2 separate regions of the Homo sapiens genome follow, and region 2 is linked to region 1. The links come from fine-mapping of genetic effects on gene expression. A gene starts in region 1. The other region holds a variant in brackets. All regions are shown on one strand. Distances are between the middles of the regions. Region 1 holds the start of EDARADD (EDAR associated via death domain). Region 2 has its middle 31 kb from the start of LGALS8.

Region 1 (2,919 bases):
TGTGAGCGGGGAGAAAGAAAAAGCCCGGGAGGCGAAAACGAAATCCACCCCCTTGCGCCCATTTCTGCCAGAGGTTTGCAGGACGTGTCTCAACCTGGCATCCCGAGTCCAGAACAAAAGCCACGGGGGCTGCGGCATGGGCAGGGGGAAGGCGCGCGGTGGCTGACGCGGGGCAGGGGCCCTGGCGAGCGCGGGAGGGGCGGTCAGCAGCCGCTCGCGGGGCTGGACTGGGAGCCCCGTGCGACTCCGGGTCTGGCGCCTGGGTCGGGGGTGGTTCCCGGGCCTCCCTCGGGGGTCGCCGAGGCCCGGCCTCGATAGCCCTGCGGCTGCTGCGAGCGCCTCCCGAGCTCCCGCCCCGCGGTGCTCGCTCCAGGAGCGGGCGCGGCGCTGTGTCCCTTTACCTGCGCGCAGAGGGTCGTCCGGTGAAGCCATGGCGGCGGGTTAGGGGCAAACGAGCGTCCGAGCGGGGCTGGCAGGCCTCCGGGGCGCGGGAGGACCGTGGGACCACGGGGATGAAAAGTCCTGCGGTTCCGACGCGCCTGGAGCAAACCGTGGCTCTGCGCGCCCCTGCCCTCCTCCGCCTTCCCCTCCCTTCTTCTTCTCCTCCTTCGCTTCTTCCACGAGCTCACTTCCTGCTTTGGCAATTAGCAAAGCCCCTTCGCTGCGCGTCCCTCGGTACCTCCCTCCAGAGGCGCGGGGCGGGAGCCGGGGTGCCGCGACCCGGGGCTGGGACGCAAGGCGGGGCCCCGAGTGTCCCGGGCGTCCCCAGCGCCCAGAGCGCGCGTCCTGCCCGGTACCCACGTCCCCCTGGGCGGGTCCTAGCGGGGGGCTGACACGACTGCCGCCCGGGACAGACTGCGAGCGAAGGACTGGCCTTAAGAAACGGCTGCAGTCGCGGGTCGCTTTCCTGGCTCCCTACTCACGCCCTCAGCTGAGACACCAGAACTCCCCTTACACAGGCCTGGGCTGAGATGCCCGCCGGCGATCTGATATTTAGACAAATTTCCTGATCTTTAAGCAGGCTCTGCCGCTGCATGATGGCACACGCTGGTACTTTCTATTTTGATTTTTCTTTGGCATTAGTTACTACATGACCTCCAGGGTGAGTGCTGCAGAAAAGGAGTGAACAGAAGTCGCCCAATACACACTCACAGCTTCTCTAGAAAAAACAGCTTCGGGTTCTCTCAGAAAAGATGGCTTCAAATATTTAAAATATTACGCTTAAGTGGGGTTTTATACCCATTACTTAAGTGAGAACACGTTGGAATTGGTTATGAAGAATATATTTAAGATTGCTACATTTTAACTAAAGCTATCATCCATCATAAGCCTATTATAGGAAGGCGACAGGCATTTTAAATTAAATAGGAATCTTTGAAGAGCTCTAAATAATCTTTCTCTGCCTTCACACATAAGAACAGAAAGATAAAAGTCGGGTCGAAAAAGATAATAATAGTATTTAGTGTATAATATATCCAAGAATTATCGTAAATAAGCAACCTCTGGCTAAAAACTCAGCTCTGAGAAATCCAGGAAGACAGCAAATGCCTACATACCCTCTTGGTGACCAGGAGCTTTAGTGCCTCTCCCCATCTGTTTAGTCGTCCTGAGGCCCATGGCGATGTTGAGTTTGGCTTCTTAATTCTCTGGAGTTTGCCATGGAAGAAGCAACAGATTGCGAGAAGATGCTCGCTGGTTGTCTGGCCAGAGTCAAACCTTCTAGATGAAAGCTCTCTGGGGAATTTGTAGGTGGGAGGATAAACTTCCTCTTGGTCTGCCTTCGGATAGGAAGGGAAATTTTTTTTAAGGGTATTTTATCTTAGAATCAATTTGGAGGTTTGGTTTGTGGTTCTTTCTGTACTTCTCATGGAGATGGAATTATTCTGACGTTGGCCGTCAGGAAACACTAGTTGAGTGAGCTTGTTAGCAGCCCAACCTCAAGCATTGCTATAAAGCTGGTTTGCTTTTTGAAACTCTGAAATGTAATTCATGTTTTTATCATTCCCATTCTGCATTATATCAAATAGAAGATGGTGGTATATTTTAAGGGTTTTTTTTTTTAAGGAAGATTGACTAGTTACGTAGTTATTACTCCCTTTCATTTTCATTTCCTCGTGCCTCCTTTCCTATGAATTGCAACGATCCCCATCATTACCTTTATTTTTCCCATGTGCTTTGCGAACTATAAAGTATGACGCAAATGGGTGCTATTGTTGTTTTGCACTTTACAAAAAAAGTAATTTAAAAATGATTCGCATTCACCAGAGTTCCCATACAATCAATTTGCTGTCACAATGTCCTTCAACTTTTATTTCTTTTGCTGTCCAAGAGTGTTTTAAACCACTATTGAAAATAGACATTTTTGGGCTGGGTGCAGTGGCTCACACCTGTAACCCCAGCACTTTGGGAGCCCAAGGCAGGTGGATTATTTGAGGTCAGGAGTTCGAGGCCAGCCTGGCCAATGTGATGAAACCCCACCGCTACTAAAAATACAAAAAACTTAGCTGGATTGGTGGCACATGCCTGTACTCCCAGCCACTCAGGAAGCTGAGGCAAAAGAATCGCTTGAACCTGGGAGGTGGAGGTTGCAGTAAGCTGAGATTGCACCACGGCACTCCAGCCTGGGCGACAGAGTGAGACTCTGTCTCAAAAAAAAAAAAAAAAAAAAAAGAAAGAAAGAAAGAAAAGAAAATGGACATTTTTAACATTTCCCGATAGTACCCAAACACTCAATCTCAGAGTCATGTGAAAAATTTCATATTTCCATAACTTCACTGCTCTTTGAGTGACCTCCAATTTTCCTTTTCCAATAAATGGAGATAGTGCATTTGGTAATCATGGAGTCAAATATGCTGGATTTCGCTGATGGACCTGTCACTCTAAGGTTGTGTTACATTAAGTAAGAAACCAAAACTGAGT
Region 2 (2,919 bases), 98 kb before region 1:
AAGATAGGAATCCGGCCAGGCACGGTGGCTCACGCCTGTAATCCCAGCACTTTGGGAGGCCGAGGTGGGTGGATCACCTGAGGTCAGGAGTTCAAGACCAGCCTGGCCAACATGGTGAAACCCCGTCTCTACTAAAAATACAAAAATTAGCTGGGCATGGTGGTGCACGCCTGTAATCCCAGCTACTCAGGAGACTGAGGCAGGAGAATCACTTGAACCTGGGAGGTGGAGTTTGTGGTGAGCCAAAACTTTCCCACTGCACTCCAGCCAGTATATATATATATATATATATACACACGTACACGTGTACACATATACACACATATGCACACGTGTACATACACACACATACACATGCACATACATGCACATATGTACATGCGTACATACACACATGTACATATATACACACATGTACATATGTACACCCATACACACATGTACATATGTACACCCATACACACATGTACATATGTACACCCATATACATATGTACATATGTACACCCATACACATATGTACATATGTACACCCATACACATGTACATATGTACACCCATACACATGTACATATGTACATCCACATATGTACATATGTATATCCATACACATATGTACATATATACACACATATGTACATATGTACATATATATTTGTGTATATCTATGTATATATATAAGAATCCCTCGAAAGGGGGTTCAGGCTGAAGACGAAAGGATTCACCAACTCTATAGAGAACAGCCAGGAGGTCATTATAGGGTGAGAAAGGGTGGCTGCTTAGGTTAGGATGGTGGCTGTGAGGTGGGAGAGGAGGGAAGGATTTAAGAGATATTAGGGAGGTAGAATAGACAGTGAAGGAGAGGGAGGTCTTAAGGATGACTTGAACAACTAGGTGGATGATAAGATGGGAACTCTGGTGAGAAACAAGTTTGGAAGGAAAGATCATGGGTTCAGCTTAGGGCAGGCTGAGTTTGGGGTGCCTGTGAGCCTCCATGTCGAGACATCAAGTCCATAGCTAGGAATGTCTGGCAAGTCAGAGGACAAGCATAGGTCAGAGATGTAAAATGAGGAGAGGTGAAAAGTAACAGTGAAATCACCTTTAACAACATCTGAAACATTTTACTGGATTTTTTTCTGTTTTTGAGACAGGGTCTTTCTTGCTCTCTTCCCTAGGCTGGAGTGCAATGGTGTGATCATGATTCACTGCAGTCTTGACCTCCCGGGCTCAAGCGATCCTCCCACTTCAGCCTCCTGAATAGCTGGTACCACAGGCACACCCCACCATGCCAGGCTAATGTTTTTTTTTTTTTTTTTTTTTTTGGTAGAGAAGGGTCTCCATAGGTCAGCCAGGCTGGTCTTTATCTCCTGAGCTCAGTGGATCTTCCTGCCTTGGCCTCCCAAAGTGCTGAGATTAGAGTGTGAGTCACTGTGCCTTGGATTGTCAGTGACCTGTCTTTCCTCCTAGTTCAGTGATTCTCAACTTTGTTCCACCAGTTTCTAGACCACATGTGCACTGCTCTCTCCGGTAACTTCCCTGATTGTCCGCAGTGAT[T/C]CTCCCTCATCTACAGGCTGTTGAGGATAGAAATGTGTTGCTTATCTTTGCATCCCCAGCATCCAGGACCCATTTTGGAAACCCACTAGGTACTCAGATGACTGATGACTGACCAAGAGTACACATGAATCAATGATTGTGTTGAAATCTACATAAAATAACTCATCAGAGACAGTGATTGACATAATCTTTAATTTTGTAGCACCCATTATTAGAGTTTAAAATAATCTGTACTTATTTAGAAGCAAAACATAAAATCATACAGGTGATAACACGAAGTCAGCTTAAAAAGTACAGCACAAAGATGTATAAACAGTATCACAAAGATTTAGGAGCTCAAGAGCCTCACCTTGGTCAGCTGAGGAACATCCTCCATGAAGCTTCGGGGACCTGCCTCAGGGGAAGATTCAGGGGTCACTGGGCTGTTACACAAAATAGAAGAGCATGGCTCAGTTCAGGATGTCCGGGGGAGCTACCCTCTTGTACATTTGCAAAAGCGCTGATAAGCTCAATCGTTTCATTTCAAGTGGCACTGTGCATTGCTTTGATCTCTTCAACGGTGGAGCTGATTTCTAGGAGGCATCCCCAGCTAAACACAGCCACTAGACCCATGCCTCACAGCCCCCGCAGCCACAGGAAGAAAGAAAACAGGCTCTCCCTCACCTTGGTTCTTCTGGTCTAGGTGGTGAGCACCCTGAGGGGCAGCAGCCACCGGCCCAGGGGTGCCAGCAGGCCCAGAGTGTGGCCCAGCATCTCAGCCACGATCCTCTGTAAACACAGGGGAAGGAAGCAAGACTTGCCCTCATCCATTTACAACCAAGTCCACAGGGTTCAGAAGGTAGAGATCAGAGAAGAAATGGAGGTGAATGTTGCTACTGCCTTGGGCTCATGTAGATAAGCTGTGTTTCAATTCAAAGAGTAGAAAATGATTTTAGCATTATTAGGACTAAAGTGTCATTAAGGATGAAAGACAAGGCCAGATGCGGTGGTTCATGCCTATAATCCCAGCATTTTGGAAGGCCGAGATGGGTGGATCAACTGATGTTGGGAGTTCGAGACAAGCCTGGCCAACATGGTGAAACCCCGTCTCTACTAAAAATTAGCCAGCCTTGGTGGCAAACACCTGTAATCCCAGCTACTCTGGAGGCTGACGCATGAGAATTGCTTGAACCTGACAGGCGGAGGTTGCAGTGAGCCGAGATGTCGCCACTGCACTCCAGCCTGGGTGACAGAGCGAGACTCTGTCTCAAAAAAAAAAAGAAACACAAGCGAACAAATTGCTTCTGCATAGTCAGGGAAAAAGGAAGCCCGTGGCAGGGAGAGGAAGGCCGTCGGCATACGGAGGAAATCTGATTTGATAAATGAG

The links. PIP is the estimated chance that this variant, and not a neighbour inherited with it, causes the effect. A credible set is the group of variants that fine-mapping cannot tell apart.
Region 2: its variant is the best candidate, but not a certain one, in a credible set for the expression of EDARADD in whole blood (TOPMed, PIP 0.51).

The regions. Positions count from the first base shown.
Region 1 is chr1:236,393,143-236,396,061 of GRCh38, reverse strand. EDARADD (EDAR associated via death domain) reads right to left here and starts at 1,776. Exons shown (of 6, transcript NM_145861.4): 1 at 1,557-1,776. The coding sequence starts at 1,617. RefSeq lists a silencer at 495-904 and an enhancer at 1,105-1,154.
Region 2 is chr1:236,491,139-236,494,057 of GRCh38, reverse strand. No RefSeq gene overlaps it. Among named protein-coding and RNA genes, the nearest start is that of LGALS8, 31 kb to the left of the region's middle. The variant T/C (reference allele first, on the strand shown) is at 1,554.